Linked DNA regions of Homo sapiens: region 2 is linked to region 1. Evidence: fine-mapped expression QTL. A gene starts in region 1. The other region holds a variant in brackets. All regions are shown on one strand. Distances are between the middles of the regions. Region 1 holds the start of ARFGEF2 (ARF guanine nucleotide exchange factor 2). Region 2 overlaps STAU1 (staufen double-stranded RNA binding protein 1).

Region 1 (11,573 bases):
ACTTGAACCTGGGATGAGTAGGTTGCAGTGAGCCAAGATGGTGCCACTGCACTCCAGTCTGGGCGACAGAGCAAGACTCCATCTCAAAAAACAAACAAACAAAAATTGCTTCTGCTTCCTTCAGTCTCTTTCCCTTTTTCTCCCTCTCTCTCTCTCTTCCTCTCATTTTCTCTTGGGTCACTCACTCTGGGAAACAGGAGATACCACAGCATGAGCACATGCAAGCAGCTCTACCGAGAGGAGTGGAACTGAGGCCTCTGTCCCATGAGAGGGAGCCTCTTTGGAAGTTGATCCTCCAGCCCCAGTTGAGCCTCATCTGACTGCAGCCCCAGATGACAGCTCAACAGCAATCTCAACAGATCCTGATCCAGAAACACCCATGCTGCTCCCAAATTCCTGACCCACAGAAACTGTGAGATAAGAAATGTTTGCTTTTAAGCTGCTAAGTGTCAGGTCATTTATCATGCAGCAACAGATAACTAATATACAGATAAATAAACACCATCATTTAAAATTCAGTTCAGTGCAACTAACAAAAGATGATATGGAAGCAAGTAGTGGAGGTAGGAGGGATAAAACTGGGAGGTTGGTGACCTTGTGGGTGACATTGAGTTGAGGGCAGAGTGGTGGGAAGGGGGCAGCCATCAGTGCTTTCCAACCCTAGCAGATACTACACACCCCCTTTTATAACTGCAAGGCCTTTGTTAGCTGTTCTGAAATGAAATTCATAGGTAATAAAATCTTCCCACACACAGTTTTAATAAGACTACGAAGGTGAAACAAAAGGAATGCAATGTATAATTTGCAAATTTTATTTCAATAGATAAATGCTCAGATACAATTACACTAGAAGGTGTAATGAAGCAGGCGGATGCTGGAACCTAAAAGTGGGATCCCCTGGAATTGCCACAGCCATATGTGCAGGCTGATTGGAGTGCCCTAGCAGCAAATCAGATACCATAGCTGGTGTAAATGACAGCAATGTGGCTTTGAAGTGGTAAATGATATTTGGTAAAGTTCCAGACAAAATACATTTTTCTGGCCAGGTGTGCTGGCTTACTCCTGTAATCCCAGCACTTTGGAAGGTGGAGGTAGGAGGATCGCTTGAGACCAGGAGTTTGAGACCAACCTGGGCAACACAGGGAGACCCTATCTCCACAAAAATATTTAACAATTAGTCAGGTACGGTGGCACACACCTGTAGTCCCAGCTACTCTGGAGGCTGAATTTGGAGGATCATTTGAGCCCAAGAGGTGGAGGCTGCAGTGAGCCATGATCACACCACTGCACTCCAGCCTGGGCAACAGAGTGAGACTCTGCCTCAAAAAAAAAAATTGTAAAATTAGCCAGGCATGGTGGCACACATCTGTAATCCCAGCACTTTGGGAGGCAAAGGTGGGAGGATCGCTTCAGCCAGAAGTTCCAGACCAGCAGGGACAACATAGGGAGACCCCCATCTCTACAAAAATATTTTTTCAAATTAGCTGGGCATGGTGTTGCATGCTTCGATCACACCACTGCACTCCAGCCTGGGTGATGGAGTGAAACCTTGTCTCAAAATACATATGTATATATACATATACATATACATATACATATATATTTCCCTTGAATTGCAATGATATTTGCATTTCTGGAAAATGTGGTGATATTAAATCTACACAAGGGCCGGGCATGGTGGCTCACGCCTGTAATCCCAGCACTTTGGGAGGCCAAGGCGGGCAGATCACTTGAGGTCAGGAGTTGGAGACCAGCCTGGCCAACATAGTGAAACCTCGTCTCTACTAAAAATACAAATAAAATTAGCCAGGCGTGGTGGCGGGTGCCTGTAATCCCAGCTACTCAGGAGGCTGAGGCAGGAGAATCGCTTGAACCTGGGAGGCAGAGGTTGCAGTGAGTGGAGATCACACCACTGCACTTCAGCCTAGGCGACAGTGCGAGACTCCATCTCAAAACAAACAAACAAACAAACAAAAAAACTACAGCAAAAAACATTTTATATGTAAAGCAGATTTAGATTCTAGGCTCAGATCATTATCAATAAGTTTTTCATCTCCAGGAGTGTCTGGCCATGTGGCATACATTGAATTGTTTGTTACATAGGATTGTTCAGCTCTCTGCAGGATGTTATCTAGCATTCCTGTTCCCTCTATTACGACAACAGAAATATCCCCCCAACAAAATTTCAAAATGCGTCTGGGGGTGGTACTGCCTTCATGGAGAAGCACTGATTAAGAGGGACAGAAAAATGTAAGACAAGCCCTTGATGGGAACAAAAAGGAGCCCAGAGTGGCCAGAGTCCTGAAGAAAAGCAGGAAGGAGATGAGCTCAGAGAAAATGGCAGGGCCTCTATCACACCTTGTTGGCCACAGTATGATACTGAACTTGGACTCAATTCCAAGGGCAATAGGGAGCCTCTGTTGGATTTTCGGCAGGGGAGTGACATAGTCTGGCCTTGCTGTGTGTGTGTGTTGGGGGGAGTGGGGTGGGATCAAAACATGTTACTCAGCAGACTGCACTGTACTCTAGAGAATTTCATTCATTCATTCATTCATTCAACACATAAGGATTGAGGTGTGTCTCAGTGATCTATTGCTGTGTAACAAGCAAGACCCCAGAATGTAGTGGCATAAAGTAATGATTTTTTGTTTTCTGCTATTCTGTGGCTCAGCTGGGCAGTTTTTCTGCTGGTCTCACTAGTCACTTGTGCTGCTGTATTCAGCTGGTGGGTCGGCTGGGAGAGCTGCAATGACTGGGCTCCCTATCCACGTGCTCTTTCTTCTGGGGCTGCTACCATTTTGTTGTTATTATTGTTGTTGTTGTTTGAGACAGAGTCTTGCTCTGTCTCCCAGGCTGGAGGGCAGAGGGGCAGTCACGGCTCACTACAGCCTCCACCTCCTGGGCTCAAGCAATCTTCCCACCTCAGCCCTCCAAGTAGCTGGGACTACAGGCAGGCATCACTATTCCTGGATAATTTTTTAAATTTTTTGTAGCATCAGGGTCTTGATATGTTGCCCAGGCTGGTCTCGAACTCCTGGGCTCAAGTGATCCTCCTACTTCAGCCTCCCAGTGTTGGAATTACAGGCATGAGCCACTGACCTGCCCAGGGCTGCTTCTGAGTGTCATTCAGCATTCCCAGGCAGTAAAGGAAGAAGTGAGCCAGGGCTGTTGATGCTCTGGGACTTGTGCAGCCTCTTTTCTGTCACATTCTATTGGTCAAGACCAGCCACAAGGCTAGTCTAGGTTCAGGCTGGTGGAGAAACAAACTCTACCTCTTGCTGGGAGTGACTGCGAAATCGCATTACAAGCAGTGGAACTTGCAGAATTTAAGGCCATGAAATATTCAACGTGACTGTAGACCGGGCCCTGGGGATATGGCCTGCCCCTCTGCAACCGTGCTTTAGTGAGACAACAAATAGTCAACACGTACAAAAGCTCAGAAAGTGCTGTGGAAAACATCAGCTAGGGAGAGAGGGGGCTACTTGAGACAGGTCAGGGAAGGCTTCCCAGAGACGTCTGAGCTAAGACCCGAGCACTGGAGCATGCCTGCCTGGGATGTCTGTGCCTCTGAGGTTTCCAAGGAAGACAACTGTCTTTGCATAAGCCCATGGCTGCCCTTGGGGGAAGGGGCCCAGGGGACACCACTAATGGTTGCTGTGATAGCATCATTGTGGAATGGAGTGGAAGCTGCCTTGGGGCCAGAGTATCTGTCCCCCAGCACTCATTTGCAGGCTGTGTGACACTGGCCATCTGGGTTTCTTCCCCTGACTCCCAAAGCCCAGGTCCAGTTCACTGCACTGTGAGGGTTCACAGGTTTATAACAGGATAAACTACAGAGAGAGGTCAGTGCTTCCTGGTATACTATGCACAGCTGCGACACTCAATAAACAGAAGTTCACTGAACTGCAAGGTCACTGCTGCTGTGACAGGAGGGTCATATGGATGTGTGTATCTTGCCAGTGGCTGTGGTGAAACCCTGCTTGTGGAGAATAGACATAAACACACCTTCTCTCTCTCCCTCTCTGTCTTCCTTTCACCTCCCCTCTCCCTCCACCCCTTCCATTTCCTATTCTCCCAGCATGTTCTTTCCACTCTTCCTCACCTCCTTCCCCTTCACCTCCTTCCTACACCATTCCTTTTTCCATCTCTTTCCTGTTTTCCTAACTTGTTACTCTCATCTTTTTCTTTCTTTTCTGTTCTTCCTGACAGCTCCCCTTCCTACCTCCTCTCCCTTCACCCTTTCTCCTACTCTTTCCCCTCCTCTCATTTCTACCTCTCTTTCCTTTTCACTTCCCCTCTCCCTCCTGTCTTTCTCCTTTTTCTTTTACCTCTGTGCCTCCCTCTCACCTCTTCCCACACCACCTCATCTCCTCCATAACTAACTCACCTCCTTTTTGTTTGTTTGTTTTTTGAGACAGGGTCTCCTTCTGTGGCCCAGGCTGGAGTGCAGTGGTGCCATCACAGCTCACTGCGGCCTCAACCTCCGAGGCTCAAGCGATCCTCCCACCTCAGCCTCCCCAGTAGCTGGGACCACAAGCAGCGCCACCAGGCCCGGCTGTTTTACTTTTTATTTTGTAGAGAAAGGGTCTCCCTATGTTGCCCAGGCTGGTCTCGAACTCCTGGGCTCAAGCGATGCTCCCGCCTTGGCCTCCGGAAGCGCTGGGATTAGAGGCGTGAGCCGCCGCGCCGGGCCTCCCCCCTTCCCCTCCGCCGCCGCCTTCTCATCGCCCTTCCTCCTTCCTCCTGACGCCCCTTACTCCCGATCACTTCTCATTCATTCACCAGCTTCCAGTCCTCGCTCCCTCACCTCTTTTCTTTCCTACTCGCCTTCTCCTCCTGCCCCTTTATCATCTCTCCTTGTCACCGTTCTTTTTTGCCAATCCTCTCGTTCCCCTTCCTTTCCTCATCTCCTCTCTTACCCACGTCATCTCCATTCTCGTGCTCCCCTTCACCTCCCGTTACCTTGCGCTTCTCTCCTCTCATCTCCATCACCACCTCTCCCCGCTTTCGCCTTTCTTTAGCCCCCGCGTCCCCTATACCCTTCGCCCATGCCCACTCCCCTCCCCACCTTCTCTTCTTCCACCCTCCACCCTCGCCTTCTGTCTCTCGCCCACCTGACTCCGCTCCGCCCCCAGCCTTAGGCTCCGCCCCGCTGGGGGTCACGGGGCCGACGGACGCTAGGCGGCCGTAGCGGCCTCGCCAGTCACGTGGTCACGTGACGCGCTCCAACATGGCGGCGCCGTGGGGCCGAGGTGTCGCTTCCTGACGGGGCGGCGCGGACGGACGCGGCCGGTGCCGGCCGGGACGCCGGGCCCGCAGCCTAGCTCGCCATCTCGCTCACGCCGCCCGCCCGCGGGGCCGTCAGCCCCCGCCGGGCCGGGGCCATGCAGGAGAGCCAGACCAAGAGCATGTTCGTGTCCCGGGCCCTGGAGAAGATCCTAGCCGACAAGGAGGTGAAGCGGCCCCAGCACTCCCAGCTGCGCAGGGCCTGCCAGGTGGCGCTCGGTGGGTGAGCCGCTCCCGCCCTGCCCCGCGCTGGCCTCAGCACGTCGGCCGTTGCCCTATCCTACTCGGCCTTGGCCCGGCCTCCTGGCCTCCGCTTCCCCCCGATCCCGAATTCCACCCTTCCGGCCTCCTCCTCATTATACCCCCGGAGGAAGTGTTGCCCGGGCAGCTCGGGACTGGCCCAAGGTCACCTAGCAAGTTGGTGACAACCAGAGCTTGTTCCTCAGGGTTCCAGCTCAGGGCTTTTGCCACGATTCCTTGTCGCCCTGTTTCCTGGTTCCTCCCCTCACCACCTCCAAGTCCTAGAAACAGTAGCCCTTGCCCCAAGTTTTTTCGTTACCTGAGCTCTGCTGATTGGGGTTCCCCTAGGTGAACAGAGCATGTAGGAAGAGCCGTCCAACTGGTTTAGGGAAACCCCTGATTCTTGTTTTGGAAGTGCCCGTTGGAGAATGTTTTCCTTTGGTTTGGGGATCTCCCATAGCTCTTTCCCTCAAGGAAGGATTGTAGAAGGTGTTCTGGATCTCCCAGGCATTGTAGTGAGCAAGACATCTGCTTATTCCTAGCAGTCCACTAAAATACAAGGTCTTCAGCGCGAAGATACTTGTCTGACTTATTCATTGCTGTATCCCTTGCGCTTGCAACAGTGCCTGGCGCACAGTAGGTGCTCGATAAATATTTGCTGATTGAATGGACCCTCAGATTATGGAAAGAGGGAGAATTCTAACTAATAGTTAAAGGCTTGATAATTGATAGCAAAATCACTATCCTATCTTTCAGTTTTAATCATTTAACAAATATTTATCAAGTGCCCACTGCATACCAGGTACTGAGAATTCAGTGGGGAACAAGACGGACATGGTCCTTACCCCTATGGAGCTTATACTCGAATAGAGGAGACAAAATAATTAATTAAGAAAATAGGTGAGGTATTTTGGAATACTGATAAATACTATTTTGAAAATAAAACAGCAAGATGTGATAAAGAGGGCTTGAGGACTGCTTTCCATGGTCAGGAAAGTAATCTTTTCCAAGAGGAAAAGTAATCAGGTGGTCAGGAAAGTAATCTTTTCCAAGAGGGTGACACTTGAGCTGAATACTGAAAGGCAAGAACTATCCACCATATGGAGTTTCAGAAGAGAGTTCTTGGTGGGAGAATCCATGCATTTGACCAGAGCTGTTTTCAAGCTAATTCACTGCCCCAACGTCTTTGGTTTGGAATCTGTAAAGGCCTGTTTTTCCTAACAAAATGAGCAAATGGAAAGTTTGATTTTTAGTCACATAGTTTGAGATTGTTATCACCTTTCTCCTTTCATTTGCTACAAAGTATAGAGTAGTGTTCTTTTGGCATTTAGAAATAGGCTGGTGAACTTTGCACTTCCCTGGAAAGAAGGTCCCTGGCTTTCATCAGATTTTCAGAGGGCCCTGAGACTCCCTCAGGGGCCAACTATTGATGCAGAGGTGGTAGTCTAGATAATCTGGAAACAGTTGCTAGTCCGTGAAATTCAGGATCAGTGGAAGGAATTTACTGAGATGTAGATTTTTAAAGCTTTTCTCTTCCAATAACCAAGGCTGTTGGGTATTTTATCAGCAATGTGGGATAAGCACTGCAAAGCAGTTTGTTAGGCAAGAGCCTGGTATTTATAACTCCACGTTGAAATCTGCCTGGACTCTATCTTCTCGATATTGTTGTGGAGGTTTCAGAATAGTTATTTGGCAGAAGAGTTTTTATTTTTTCTTCAGAAAACTTCTTAACATAAAATTTTCACCAAAGTGTGCATCATATTATTGGAACCTACTTATAAAATTTTCATCTGGGTCATGAAGGGCCATTAACGCTGAGAATTTAATAGATATTTTCGGATCGTATCTTTGTTCAGAAGTTCAAGTTTTCCTAACACAAGTAGTGGAATGCATGTTTTCAGTTTTTAGTAGTGAATTGTAAAAAATGGCCTAGATAGGAAGTAATTTGACTACAGGTTATATGAATCACAAATTGGGGTTGTGCCAATGGCATAATAGGAACTGTCATAAGGGAACGTATGCATATTGTTAAGTGACCATCTTTTTTAAGAGAATAATTGTGTGTCATTGCTGTTAAATAGAAATGACTGCTTTTACTTAGAGTAGAACACATAGCAGAATGCCTGGTGATATTTCTCTCTGTCTCTCAAGGCCCAGTCTTGTGTCCAGTAGTCCCATTTAAGAAGAGAAATTTGGGGCCAGGTGCGGTGGCTCACGCCTGTAATCCCAGCACTTTAGGAGGCTGAGGCAGGCAGATCACGAGGTCAGGAGATCGAAACCATCCTGGCTAACACGGTGAAACCCCGCCTCTACTAAAAATAACAAAAAAAATTAGCTGGGCGCTGTGGCGGGCACCTGTAGTCCCACCTACTCGGGAGGCTGAGGCAGGAGAATGGCGTGAACCCAGGAGGTGGAGCTTGCAGTGAGCTGAGATTGCGCCACTGCACTCCAGCCTGGGCGACAAAACAAGACTCTGTCTCAAAAAAAAAAAAAAAAAAAAAGGCTGAAACGAGCCAGTGTATAAGGAGCAGCTATGTGGTATTTTAGAGATTACCATGTATAGATTGTTGTTAATTGTGATAAGAGGAACTGTAAATGACGGCTCAAAGTTGAAATGCTTGGATGATAGAGAGCATTTACAGGAAACAGCTTCTGTGATATGATTCCACCAGCTGTAGCATATTAGGGGAGAGGATCAGGGCTGCAGGGACTGTATAGTGTAGATGTTAGCTAGGAGTGTATTCTTTGGGACCCTAGACTTCTGTGTTCAAACCTCCTGCCTTCCACTTGCTACGTTTGTGATCTTGGACAAGTTACTTCCTTATAGGATTATTGTAAAGATTAAGTTAATTGACATGTGCAAAAAACTTGGCATGTAGTAGGTGCTCAGTAAATGCTTGCTATTACTTTTTTATTATTATTATTTTAAGCTGTGACAAACCACAGCAGCTGTAATTACTCTGGTTTGATGTTCTTAACCTTAGTTCCTCGTTCAGGAATGACTTACTGCTCTATTTGGTTTGTAGATGCAGTAAATAAGAATGTAATTACGTGATTGAAAGGCTGTGTTGGAGTATTAACTTCCTAAACTCAATGAAGACAGGGGTTGTCCTTTGTAAAAATTGTGATAATCATGATGGAGCAGATTTGGAGTAATCTCAATGATTCGTCCGCACTATACACCAAAAGCATAAATAGGGACTGCCCAAGTAGGGGATAGTGCCCTTCCAACCTTTATCTGGAGAAATCAAGACAGCCTGTGAGAGTATTCATCGCCCCAAGGATACTGTTGCTCTTTACCTTGTTATGAAACTTTGATATATATTAATAATCTTCAACCTTTCAGCCCTCTGTTGGAGAATATAATTACATTCTTAAACCTCCCTTTTATAATTGTCTTATTTAAGACTCATCTTCTCCCATCATGTATCTTTAAGTTATGTTTCTGCTCTTAAACTATATGAAGTTTGGAGGCTTAATAGGATAATCTATTTAAAATTCGATATGGAAAAATTTATCTATGGCTGGGCACTGTGGTTCATGCCTGTAATTCCAGCGCTTTAGGAGGCCAAGGTGGGCAGATTGCATGAGCCCAGGAGTTTGAGACCAGCCTGTGCAACATGGCAAAACCCCATCTCTAAAAAAATATATAAAAATTAGCTGGGTGTGGTAGTGCATGCCTGTAGTCCCGGCTACTTGGGAGGCTGAGGTGGGAGGATGACTTGAACCTAGGAAATGGAGGTTGCAGTGAGTTGAGATCATGCCATTGCACTCCAGCCGAGACAGCAGGGTGAGACCCTCACACAAAAGTGCTAAGTAATGGCTAGGTGCTCTATAATTACTAGTTGTCATTATTCTCAGCCATTATCAAGAAAATTTAAAAAGAATAGTAAACATACGTATTTTCATATGAAATTGAATGACTTTTAAAGATCACATGTTGTATTATATCTCCTATGTACTAAGCATTTCTGAGTTCCAGGCACAGTAAAGTGGGCTTTTCATGCAATTTAGTTCTCACTATTATCATCATTCCCACTGAGGCCCAGAGAAGTTAAGTTGGCCAGGGTAACTCAGTAAGTGATGGAACCAGGGTATAAACACAGGCAATCTGGCTCCATAGTCCAAGATCTTAACTATTACTACCATGTTTTCTTGCTTCTCCATATGAAAGTTGTTATGTTTGAAATACTCAGTAGAGTTTTTAAAACAATCAGTATACCGCAGTGGAGTTTCAGGAGACTGTATTTTCTATAGCTGAATTTTGAGATATGTTTGAAAGCCTTGAGTCAAAAAGATCACAGCTCTTTTCTTCAGGTTTTTACTACATATATACTAGGTTTACTTTAATTAGGGGCTAATGGAAAGAAGGAAATGAGAGTAAAGAGCTGGTTACACATAAGTTTCATTTGAGTTATTCAGTTTTTCTTTTTTTTTTTTGAGACAGGATCTTGCTCTGTGGCCCAGGCTGGAGTGCAGTGGTGGGGTGCGATCTCAGGTCACTGCAACCTCTCCATCCCTGGCTCAGGTGATCCTCCCATTTCAGCCTCCCAAGTAGCTAGGACTACAGGGGCGTACCACCCACCTGGCTAATTTTTCTGTTTTTAGTAGAGACGGGGTTTTTCTGTTGTCTGGGCTGGAGTTAATCAGTTTTTCTAATTGATGATATCTCTTCATCAGCAGTAAACTCCCTCTTATTAATTCTGGAGTTGTGACCTGTTATTAATTCTGGATTGTGATTCATTTCTTTGGGTACAGCAGGCAATGGGAGACCAAGGCTAAGGAAGAGAGCAACTTGCCCATCCACATCCACACAGCTGGGTGGGGAAACGTAGCTGCAGCACATGATGTAGCTTCACATAGATCATAACATCCATTCTTAGATTTGCTCCTCTGTTTAATATACGAGATTTAGGATGTGGATGGGTCATTGGTGACCTTAGCTTGAGCTTTTTTGATGCTGTGATGGAGGTGAAAGCCAGACTGGCATGGGTTGAGGCGTGGGAGGTGAGGAAACAGATGGTGAGCATAGTCAGCTCTCCCAAAGTTTGGTTGTGTTGTAAAGAGGAAGAAGGAGTGGCTCCTGGGAGTTGTTTGTTTATTTAAAGGTAGAAAAGATTTTAACTTTAAATATTGTTAAGGGATCCAGTTAAGGAAGTATATTCCTAAATCTTAGTTGTATATGAATGTGTGTAAGACATACAAATGGGCATTTATCATATGGACATCTGTGTGTCCATATGATACATAAATTGCTTTTTCTTCCATATGATCCTTTTATTCTAATTTTGATGTGTTCAGAAAAACCATTCTCATCATGAGGATTACTGTGAAACTTGAAAAATATAAAAAACATCTCTAAATTGATGTAACGTGGCGGGGCATGGTGGCTCACGCCTGTAATCTCAGTACTTTGGGAGGTCGAGGCGGGCGGCTCAGTTGAGGCCAGGGGTTCAAGACTAGCCTGGCCAAAATGGCGAAACCCCATCTGTACTAAAATACAAAAATTAGCTGGGCGTGGTGGCGCACACCCGTAATCCCAGCTACTTGGGAGGCTGAGGCAGGAGAATTGCTTGAACCCGGGAGGTGGAGGTTGCAGTGAGCCAAGATGGCGCCACTGCACTCCAGCCTTGGCAACAGAGCGAGACTCTGTCTCAAAAAAAAAAAAATTAAAAAATAAATAAATAAATTGACATAACAAGACTTTAAATTGAAATGCAGAATAAAGCCTTTAATTTTAGCAAATTCTAGTGTTTTGATGAGACATTTCGTTTATAAGTGCTATGTATCATAAAAATTTTGAGAAATAACAGGACTCAGGACCCTGGAAGATTACTTTTTGTTGAAAACCACTGTGGATTCTTCAGGAGGAGGTTATCTGTCTGGAAGCAGCATCAAAAAACTGGATTGTTCTTGATTATTGAAAAGCATTTATATGTAGGATTGGCAGAGAGTTGATTGAGACTTTGAAAGTTTGATTTGCTTATTGATAGTCCAGTGATCCCTCTTTGGGCCGCAGTTTCCCAAGGTGATAAAGATAGTAATAC
Region 2 (11,573 bases), 190 kb after region 1:
CTGAAGAAGTGACGCACAGGATGCTGACAGACCCTTAGTAGAGATCCTTATTCCAAAGGGGCATCAGCTGCCTGCTAATCCATCCAGGGTCAGGAGGAGATTCCTAGTGAGGCCGCTACTGCAGTCTAAGGAGTGGGAACAATCACTAGCCAGACTGGAGCAGCCCAGCTCTGAAGAGGAGGGGCTGTCACCTGATCCTGCCTGTGCCCCATCAAGCTCTGGAGACCAAGCAAAATCAAAGCTCCAGGCACACCTCAAAGCTCGCTTGACAACTGAAAGAGCCATTGTGTGTGCACTGTAGGTAAGGTCGTGGTAGAGCTGCCTGGGAAAGGGTGGAAGACACACTAAGATTTATGATTGGATACAGGGCTTGTGGGCAACTTCCAAATTTTTCATAATCTACTTTTAAATTAAAAAACCATCTTAGGCCAGGCATGGTGACCCATGCCTCCCAGCACTCTGGGAGCCAAAAGTGGGAGGATTGCTTGACCTCAAGTTTGAGACCAGCCTGGGTACACAGTGAGACCACATCTCTACAAAAAAAATTTTTGTAATTAGCTGGGCATAATGGCACATACCTGTAGTCCCAGCTATTCAGTAGGCTGAGGCAGGAAGATCAGCCTGAGCCTGGGAAGTCAAGGCTGCAGTCAGCCATGATCACACTGGTCTGAGCCTGGGTGACAGGGGGACCCTGTCTCCAAAAAACCCCAAACAAAAAATAATTTTAAAAATTACTGGCTGGGCATGGTGGCTCACACCTATAATCCCGCACTTTGGGAGGCCAAGGCAGGTGGGTTACCTGAGGCCAGGAGTTCGAGACCAGTCTGGCCAACATGGTGCAACCCTGTCTCTACTAAAAATACAAAATGAGCCTGGTGTGAGGGCACGCACCTGTAATCACAGCTACTCAGGATGAGGCAAGAGAATCACTTGAACCTGGGAGGTGGAGGTTGTAGTGAGCTGAGATTGTGCCATTGCACTCCAGCCTGGGGGACAAGACTGAAACTCGGTCTCAAAAAGCAAAACAAAATTGCTACTATACATAGACTGCTTTACTGTTGTCATTGCAGACCTGATGTTTGTAGGTTTCAGTGAATGTAAAAGAATGTGTGGATGAACGGTTTTGTTGTTGTTTTTGAGACAGAGTTTCGCTCTTGTCACCCAGGCTGGAGTGCCATGGTGCAGTCTCGGTTCGCTGCAACCTCAGCCTCCCCAGTAGCTGGGATTACAGGTGCCCACCACCACGCCCGGCTAATTTTTAGTAGAGACGGGGTTCCATCATGTTGGCCAGGCTGGTGGTCTTGAACTCCTGACTGCAGCTGAGCCACTTTACCCGGCCAGATGAATGCATTTTTTAAATATTAAACTTAGGTTAGAAGCACATAATAAAGCTGTACACATCTCCTACAGTTTTCACTAATGAAAATTGGGATGCCATTTAAATTACAAAGAAGTCTGAGGAGAATGTCCTACAGACTAGTTTCACATGCACATGCTGTCCTTACATGCTTTGTATACAGACATTAAACACATCAGTACAGTACACAAAGTAACAAGTTCCACGAACTCAGCACCACAGGAAAGGTTTACAAAAAATCCAAGAAGATGGCTATGCTGCCCATTAACAAACTCCCACCTCCTATCTTTGAGTTAGCCATTGCTTCTTAAAACAATGTATCTCTTTAAAAGCCCTATTTAAGAACATTGGCCAACTCCTCCACTCTTCCCTCTGCTAATCCTGCTCTGATTAAGTGCTTGACAAATCCAGTATTTATTGATTTGGAATTTCAAGTAAGTTTTTTGTTTTTAAGAGCACACAGGCATTTAAGCCCTTAAACCAGAAGTAGTGATAAATACTGCTGCTTTTTATTGAGGCTGAGTCTCCAACACCTAGGCTATAGTTGCAGTAGCGTGATCTCAGCTCACTGCAGCCTTGACCTCGGGCTCAAGTGATTCTTCCACATCAGCCTCCCAAGTAGCTAGGACTACAAGCCCATGGTACCACCATGGTGCCATGCCGGGCTAGTTTTCTGTTTTTTTTTTGTTTTGTAGAGATGGGGGTCTCTATGTTGCTCAGGCTGGTTTCAAACTCCCGGGCTCAAGCAGTCCACTCACCGTGGCTTCCCAAAAGGCTGGGAATACAGGGATGAGCCACCATGCCCAGCCAGTGGATGCTTCTGACATGTTATGTGCAAACAAAGCCAGACCTCTCGGGCCTCAGGTTTGCTTCCTGGGATGATCCTATTCTACTGAACTCACACTGATCCCTATAAAGCAAGCAGCAACATCACGCTTTTGGGAAAGGCCAATATGTTTTCCTGTCGATCATACCAATCCCAGGCGCCCTCCTAACAGGAGGGATCCAGACTATGGTGTCCATCACTGAGCATTCACCCAACAAAGCCACTTAAAAAAACAGCTCAGTAAACTAGATTCAGAAGTGATACTTGTTTGTAAGACCTATCCACATTACTCTGGCTTAAGAAGGCCTGAAAACCCAGAAAAACACCCAGCTATGGGTGAAAATACTTACAGGTGAATGTTTTAGTCTAGGATTAGCATTAAGATACTTCAGGAAAAAAATAATGGGGAGGATGAGACAAGAACAACAAACTCAAGACAGCTATGAGGAAATAACCATTACCCGTTAAGTTTTCCCTTTAATGACCATGAGGACAAAGTCATGACAATGCAGTCACCACCCACTTTTTGAAAAAAAAAAACAATGCCAATGTGGGAACCGACTGAGTCCCAAGCTTATCTACTGTAGGATCCAAGAGAGAGACAATCTCAGTGTTGGAGAATGCACTGAGAACATAGAGGAGAAGGCTACAAAGAACACTGAGTATACAAATGCATACAGATAGATGTGTATAGATATATATACACATAGATTTCCTGTCCGCTACAGAGGTCTAGAAACAATAACACCCCAGTAGCAGTAAGCCCTCAGAGCATTCAGATCTTGGTTTCTAAATGCTGTCTTCTAGTAGAGGGAACCAGGGCTCCTTAGGAAAATGGCTGAATCAGGCTAGGCGTGGTGGGTCACGCCTGTAATCTCAGCACTTTGGGGGGCTGAGGCGGGCGGATCATAAGGTGAGAAGTTCAAGACCAGCCTGGCCAATATGGTGAAACCCCATCTCTACTAAACATAAATACAAAAATTAGCCAGATGTGGTGTGCACACCTGTAGTCCCAGCTACTTGGGAGGCTGAGGCAGGAGAATCGCTTGAACCCACGAGGCGGAGGTTGCAGTGAGCTGAGATGGTGCCACTGCACTCCAGCCTGGGCGACAGAGTGAGACTCCATCTCAGAAAAAAAAAAAAAAAAGGCTGAATCAGGACTAGGGGAAGGAAAAGAACAAGATGAACCCCAAATATCTCAATGTGTCAAGTTAGTCTTCAAAAAATGATGGGGACAAATGACAGTTTTTGTGGACATAGAAAAGCCCATCCTAAAATTTATAAGGAATCCTAAGGGACCCTGAATAACCAAAAACAATCTTGAAAACTTAGCTGAAGGACTCATAGGTTAAGATTTCAAAATTTACTACAGTAATCAAATCAGTGTGGTACCAGCACAACAACAGACATATAGGAGGCTGGTTGCGGTGGTTCACGCCTGTAATCCCAGCACTTTGGAGGCTGAGGTGGGAGGATCACTTGAGCCCAGGAGTTCAAGACCAGCCTGAGCAACTTGGTAAAACCTTGTCTCTACAAAAAAAAAAAGAAAAAATCAGCCAGGCATGGTGACATGGTGACACACGCCTATAGTCCCAGCTACCTGGTAGGCTGTGAGCCAAGACTGCACCACTGCACTCCAGTCTGGGCAACAGAGTAAGACCCTGTCTCAAAAAAAAAAAAAGGCCAGGCGCGGTGGCTCACGCCTGTAATCCCAGCACTTTGGGAGACCGAGGCGGGTGGATCATGAGGTCAGGAGATCGAGACCATCCTGGCTAACAAGGTGAAACCCCGTCTCTACTAAAAATACAAAAAATTAGCCGGGCGCGGTGGCGGGCGCGGTGGCGGGCGCCTGTAGTCCCAGCTACTCGGGAGGCTGAGGCAGGAGAATGGCGTGAACCCGGGAAGCGGAGCTTGCAGTGAGCCGAGATTGCGCCACTGCAGTCCGCAGTCCGGCCTGGGCGACAGAGCGAGACTCCGTCTCAAAAAAAAAAAAAAAAAAAAAAAAAAAAATATATATATATATATATACACACACACACACACACACACACACACACACACACACACACACACACCCCCCCCCCCCCCAAAGGAAGAGAATCCAGAAGTCCTTCCATGTAATTTTTGACAAGGGTGCCAAGACCATTCAATGGGGGAGGGACAGTCTTTTCACAAATACTGTTGGGAAAACAGTGTGCACTTGCCAAGGAATGAAGCTGGACCCTTACCTAACACCATACACAAAATTAGCTTAAAATGGATGAAAGACCTAAATCTAAGACTAAAACTAAAACATGAGGCAAATCCGCAAATCTTCATGAGTTGGACTTAGCAATGTTTTCTTAAGTATGACACCAGAAACAGGCAACAAAAGAAAGTAATAGACAAACTAGACTTCATCAAAATTAAAACCTTTTTTGCATCAAAAGCTTTTCTGCAAAAAGCTTTTGCAGAATGAAAAAACAACTCACAGAATGGGAAGAAAAAAACTGCAAGTCACATCTGTTAAGGGATTAATATCCAGAATACACACAATACTCCTAAAATTCAACAACAAGCAACATGATTCAAAAAAAATGGGCAAGACTTGGACAGACATTTATCCAAAGAAGATAGACAAATGGCCAATAAATACGAAAAGATGTTCAACATCGTTAGGGAAATGCAAACCAAAACCCCCATGAGATACCACCTCATATCCACTAGGACAGCTACTATTTAACGAAACAATAAACATTGGCGACAATGTGGAGAAACTGGAACCATCATGCACTGTTGGAAAGTGATGGCTGCAGTGGGAAACTGGCAGTTCCTCAATATGTTAAAAATAATAGGTCAGACGCAGTGGCTCACGCCTGTAATCCCAACACTTTGGGAGGCCAAGGCGGGCAGATCACTTGAGGTCCGGAGTTCAAGACCAGCCTGGCCAACATGGTAAACCCCCGTCTCTACTAAAAATACAAAAATTAGCCAGGTGTAGTGGTGGGCCCCCGTAATCCCAGGTACTCGGGAGGCTGAGGCAGGAGAATCACTTGACCCTGGGAGGCAGAGGTTGCAGTGAACCGAGATCGTGCCACTGACTCCAGCCTGGGCAGCAAAGGGAGACTCCATCTCAAAAAAAAAAAAAATTATATGCAGCAATTCCACTTCTGGGTACATACCCCAAAGAGTTGAAAGCAGGGTCTCAAAGATTTTGTATACCAATATTCACATGTGGAAGCAACCCAAGTGCTTTTTTTTTTTTAGACTGAGTCTCACTCTATTGCCCAAGCTGGAGTACAGTGGCACAGTCTCAGCTCACTACAACCTCCACCTCCTGGGTTCAAGTGATTCTCCTGCCTCAGCCTCCCGAGTAGCTGGGACTACAGGTGCGCGCCACCATGCCCAGCTAATTTGCATATTTTTAGTAGCTATGGGGTTTCACTATGTTGACCAGGCTGGTCTTGAACTCCTGATCTCAGGGAATCCACCTGCCTCGGCCTCCCAAAGTGCTGGGATTACAGGTGTCAGTCACCGTGTCCAACCCCAAGTGCCTACTGACAATGTATTGATAAGCAAAATGTGGAATATATACACACAATGGAATATTACTCAGCCTTAACAAAGGAGGGAAATTGACATATTACAACACGGATAAACCTTAAGGACATTAGGCTATGTAAGATAAACCAGCCACAGAAGGGCAGATACTGTCCATTTATAGGAGGTTCCTAGAGTGAAAATCATAAACAAGTGGTGGTTTCCAGGGGCTGGAAGGAGCATGCGAGGGGAGTTAGTGTTTCATGGGAACAGTTTAAGTTTTACAAAATGAAAAGTTATGGAGTTGGATTGTGGTGGCTACACATTATGAATAAACTGTACACTTAAAAGTAGTTAGCAGTCTGGGCAACATAGCAAGACCTCGACTGTACAAAAAAAAATTAGCTGGGCATGGATGTGCACACCTGTAGTCTCAGCTATTCGGGAGGCTGAGGTAGGAGGAAAGCCCAGGAGAGCAAGGTTGCAGTGAGCCAGGATCACACTGCTGCACTCCAGCCTGGATGACAGATTGGGATGCTGTTTTAAAAAAAAAAAAAAAAAAGTGGTTAATAGGATGGTAAATTTTCTATGTGTCTTACCACAATTTTTTACAATTTTAAGATGGAAACATGCCAAAAGGACACAAGAGTCACCTTGACAGGTCTTCTGATGTCCAAATTTGAAGTAATTTGAACATCAAATAAATGGTTGCAATGGATTGCGACCCAGACTAGGAGTCCATTAGCTGACACACTGCATCAATGGGGAGGGAAGGCGCCTCCATGCAGGGGCAGGGTGTCGGCAGAAGGAACATTGGACATGGAAGCTCATGGATGGGCAGTGGTGGTGGATTCACATGGAAGTTGTAAGTGAAGGACAAGGATGGAGGGTAGAGGTCTGAAGAGGAACAGGCTGGTCATGTGCTTTGAGGATGCCTCCCCACAAAATACTCCTTGATTACCAAGAGACATAGTGTGACCTGACTGACAGTGGAGCAATCTGCCTGGGTCACCAAGGTTAACAAACTGTATGCCCCTGGAGTGACATACAGAGAAGAGCGCAGCATTTCTGTGGCTTTCCTGCCACAAAAGTGCTGCCTAGGTCTGGTCACCATCATCCAGACCCAGGCTGAGGGTGTACTACAGAGAGGTCTGCGGGCTTCACCCCACTAGGACGTGAAACACAGATGCCGAGAGGACTGATGCAGACAGCAGGAGAAAACTAAAGGCAACACACACCTCTTGACAGGGACCCTGGACCAGGAAAGGACAAGACACTGTTGGGACAGCTGGCGAGATCTGCATGGGGTCCATGGACTGGATGCAGTGTTCACTCCCTGACTTGGGGGAATATCTAAATTTTGAAGAGAGAGGGAGACCAGGGGAGACAATGTACACATAATTTCAGTAAAATGTACCTTTTATCTGTGAAATTATTTTAAAATAAAATTTTAAAAGTTAAAGGACTAGGTGCAGTGACTCACACCTGCAATCCCAGCACTTTGGGAGGATGAGATGACAGGATCACTTGAACCCAGTTGGACTGGCCTGGGCAATGTAGTGAGACCCTCTCTCTTAAAAAAAAAAAAA[A/T]ATCATTAGCCAGGAATGGTGTCATGTGCCTGTAGTCCCAGCTACTCAGGAAACTGAGGTGGGAGAATCACCTGAGCCCAGTCAAGGCTGCAGTGAGCTGTGATCATGCCACTACACTCCAGTGTGGGTGACAGAGCAGGACACTGTCTTTAAAAAAAAAAGTAGTAAAGAAAGGCTATATACTGCTGGGTGCAGTGGCTCACACCTGTAATCCCAACACTCTGGGAAGTCAAGGCAGGAGGATCGCTTGAGGCCACTGCAACCCAGCCTGGGTAACAGAGCAAGCTACTGTCTCAAAAAGGAAAAAAAAAGCTATATTGTAATGTCTTACTATGCAAAGCTACTCATGAAAAACTTAAGCCAGGCGCAGTGGCTCACACCTGTAATCCCAGCACTTTGGGAGGCCGAGGTGGCCAGATCACTTGAGGTCAGTTCGAGACCAGCCTGGCCAACATGGTGAAATCCCATCTCTACTAAAAATACAAAAATTGGCCAAGCGCACTGGCACGTGCCTATGATCCCAGCTACTCAGGAGGGAGGCTGAGACAAGAGAATTGCCTGAACCCGGGAAGAGGAGGTTGCAGTGATTCCAGATTGCACCACTGCACTCCAGCCTGGGTGACAGAGCCAGACTCCATCTCAAAAAAATAAAAATAAAAAGAAGAAAAACTTACTACTGTTTTTGAACTATAATTTTTTATTGTAATATTTTTAACACTTAATGCTTACTTGAGTGTATTACCAAAGTTACCCCAGGGCACCCCTTCTTCAATGAAGTACCCAGAATGAGTTTTTTTTTTTTTTTTGAGACGGAGTCTCGCTCTGTCGCCCAGGCTGGAGTGCAGTGGCGCGATCTCTGCTCACGGCAAGCTCCGCCTCCCGGGTTCACACCATTCTCCTGCCTCAGCCTCCCGAGTAGCTGGGACTACAGGCACCTGCCACCATGCCCGGCTAATTTTTTTGTATTTTTAGTAGAGGTGGGGTTTCACCGTGTTAGCCAGGATGGTCTCGATCTCCTGACCTCATGATCCACCTGCCTCGGCCCCCCAAAGTGCTGGGATTACAGGTGTGAGCCACTGCGCCCGGCCCAGAATGAATTTTTATAAATAGTCGAAGACACAAAAGATCACACTGGTCGGCTTCCAGTGTTGCCGCCAGCAAGTACGCTCCCTGCGAAAGTGCATCAAGTCAGGGCCCCAGGCTCAGCTTCTCTAAGAACCTTCAGTCTGGGGGAGGGTTGTGATGTGAGTCACAGGTCCATGAATTCTTTTTTTGTTGTTTTTAAAGACGTAAAGACACTTTTTCTCCTTTCACTGCTTTTCTCCTCAAAATGTTGCATTTCCTTCTGCCCTTAGTGTTTTCCATAACCTTCTGATCACTTTCAGTTATTCCGGCAGTACAATCATAGGCTGGCTTTACAGTGAAGCCTTTATAATCTTCTTCCACTTCTTCTAAAATTAAAAAATGAAAACCAACTAGCCCAACCCTCAACCAGGCTGGAACGCATGTCCTCCTCAGTGCTCAGTTATGGTGAGAGATGAGGATGCCCTGGGAAGTGTCCGGCAGTCTCCTCTCAGCTCCTTGGGGTCATTTCTTTGGGTAGCAATGTCAGGTCTGGACGGGGCACAAGTCCCTACATCCAGGTACCCAACATGCCTCTGAGGCAGCAACGCTTCCCAGAGGGGCTGGCCCTGGTCCCCCCACGACGAGCTTCCATCCCCTTACTCACATCTTCCCTTATTTTAGTTACTGCTCAACAGGACCAAACACTTCATTAGTAGCTGTTTATTGATCAATGGTTTGATATAAAGTTATTTCAGATCTTCAGACTTTTGCCCAGATGGAATCACAAGCATTACAAAGTTTTTTTCTTAAAAATAAAAAAAGGATAGGGGCAAGTTGGGAGGGGACCAACCTAGCAGTAGTGGCATTTGAGAATAAATTAACAAAAAAATTTAGTATTACCATTTATTGATGACAAACACTTAAGTTTTACTTACATTCCATGGGGAGAAAAATTCCAGCGTAAACAATGAATGGAAGCAGTACTTAACTCGCAGGGCTACCAGGCTTTCCATACGGACCACACGCAGAGCCTCAGTGCACACACTTCTGTGTACAGTAACACAACATCAAAAGCAACACAGCTGTATACAGAAACGTAGGTCATTCTTTTCAGCCCTAATGGAGATGTAATTAACAGTATCGAGCACTCTGGAAAATCACTCTGCAGGTTTATATGGACTACATGGAGATCATATCCTGTAGTGTAGTGAAAGCTAAGTCCTCAAGAGCCATATGTATAGATACACAATGTTTTTTAATAATCTTTAAAACAGAGATCAAAGTTCATTTAAGTCCTGTTTGCATTAACAAAAATAAAAATGAAATAAAAATGGAACCAAATGATCATCTAAAGTTTAAAATTCCTAAATTGTCCAATTTATACAACTGTGGGAGACTTATTCAAGGTTTTTGAAAGTCCAGGACTGTTTCAGCTGAACCAGAGGGCACACAATTTGCATCACTGAAACTGTCCTGGGTTAGTCAATGAAATAAAAATGTCTAACCACATACACATGGATATGATCTTTGTCGGTTAGATTATTGATAAAGTCAGTCTCAGACAAGTTTCCAAACTGTGCTATTTAACTAGATACAATTGAGAAATTCTCAAATGAAAATTTTATATAGTGTCATATCAATCAAAAGAAAATAATGAAACTAAGAATACAGATCACTGTTGGAAGAGAAAGCAGTGGTGATGGTGTGGGTACTGCAGGAGGTGGTGGGGCCGTGGCACACTAGAAAAGTTGGGTCACGCTGAGTAGGAAGCATTTGATTTTCTCTGGTGCTTTTAGCTCTGGGGCCGGTCAAAGGCCTCTCTCTGGCATGGCTGTCCAGGGTTTGTCCCAATGTGTCTGAGTGAGCCAGCTTGAGAAGGGGTCGTGCCGTTTCTTCTTTCACACAGGGGAAAAAAAAGACCAAACACGGAGGTGCCCAGGGTGTGGATCTGCTGGTGTCCCGGGAGAACCAGCTGGCTGGGCAGCCCTTCTTCCCCACAGGCAGCTGCTATTGCGTAGGGACCGCCAGGTCACCGAGTGGCCATCACAACAAACCCCAGCACAGTCCAGCCCGGCCACAGCCGCCTCCTTGTGTTTCTGTTGTCTTCCCTGCTGCTGCCCACATCCTTTACCCACCGTGTCTCTCGGCCCACTGGAGGTATCAGAAATTCCAAATTTTCAAAGCAGTTTCAGTATTTTCAGTATATATGTTGGGATTTTATAATGGTTCATGGCCAGAAAAGGTTCAGCACCTCCCACACCTTTAAGGAAGAAAAATGAAAATGACACTAGTTTTGAAATGTAAGAGAATTAAAGTACTGTTAAAAATGAAAAGAAATTGGCAAACATCAGGAAGTACAATACTAAAAGCCCCAGTTTATGATAACAAAAGTTTTCCCAGGGTATGCCAGTAAGTAAAATACGCAAGGAGAGTGTGTGTACTTATCTCTGTGGGGGGAAAGGAAGAAAATGAGGGAAGAAATATATGTCTATATTTGTATAAAGAAACATACAGGAAAGATACAGGAGAAACTAGTAAAAATGTGATCTATGGGGGAGGCGGTGGGGAGAATAGGAGGGATGGGATGGGGGCTGTCCGAGGGGAAGATTGTACCTTGTAAAATAATGCAGAGTTCTGACCATGTGAAGGTATGACCAACTCAAAAAGGTTTTTTTGTTTTTTTTTGGGACGGAGTCTTGCTCTGTCGCCCAGGCTGGAGTGCAGTGGCGCTATGTCGGCTCACTGCAACCTCCGCCTCCCAGGTTTTAAGCAGTTCTCTGCCTCGGCCTCCCAAGTAGCTGGGATTACAGGTGCCTGCCACCACACCTGGCTAATTTTTGTATTTTTAGTAGAGACAGGGTTTCACCATCTTGGCCAGGCTGGTCTTAAACACCTGACACCTCATGATCCACCTGCCTTGGCCACCCAAAGTGCTGGGATTACAGGTGTGAGCCGCTGTTCCCAGCCTCAAAATGTCTTTTAAAAGTAGAGCTTTCTGCCCAGAGAATCTGGAAAACTTTCAGGCAAAAGGGCCAGAAAGTAACTCAGGCAAATATTTCCCCGCTGAGTCAGCAGATAGTGTAAACTCAACACAAACGAGGGGCAGCCTCCCCATCATCAGCGCCTTCCCCTTCATCAGTGCACTCACACAGACATTGGTCCGTTTCCTGTTCTTGGCATCTCTGTACTTTGTTGGTCCAACTCAGACAGCAACTTT

The links.
Region 2: its variant is fine-mapped to the expression of ARFGEF2 in blood mononuclear cells (TOPMed, PIP 0.98).

The regions. Positions count from the first base shown.
Region 1 is chr20:48,916,506-48,928,078 of GRCh38, forward strand. It overlaps ARFGEF2 (ARF guanine nucleotide exchange factor 2), which reads left to right and starts at 5,206. Exons shown (of 39, transcript NM_006420.3): 1 at 5,206-5,505. The coding sequence starts at 5,385. RefSeq lists silencers at 4,967-5,046, 5,277-5,376, 5,417-5,466 and an enhancer at 5,837-5,916.
Region 2 is chr20:49,104,278-49,115,850 of GRCh38, forward strand. It overlaps STAU1 (staufen double-stranded RNA binding protein 1), which reads right to left. Exons shown (of 14, transcript NM_017453.4): 13 at 11,505-11,573; 14 at 9,062-10,616. The coding sequence ends at 10,601. Among named protein-coding and RNA genes, the nearest start is that of CSE1L, 64 kb to the left of the region's middle. The variant A/T (reference allele first, on the strand shown) is at 7,292.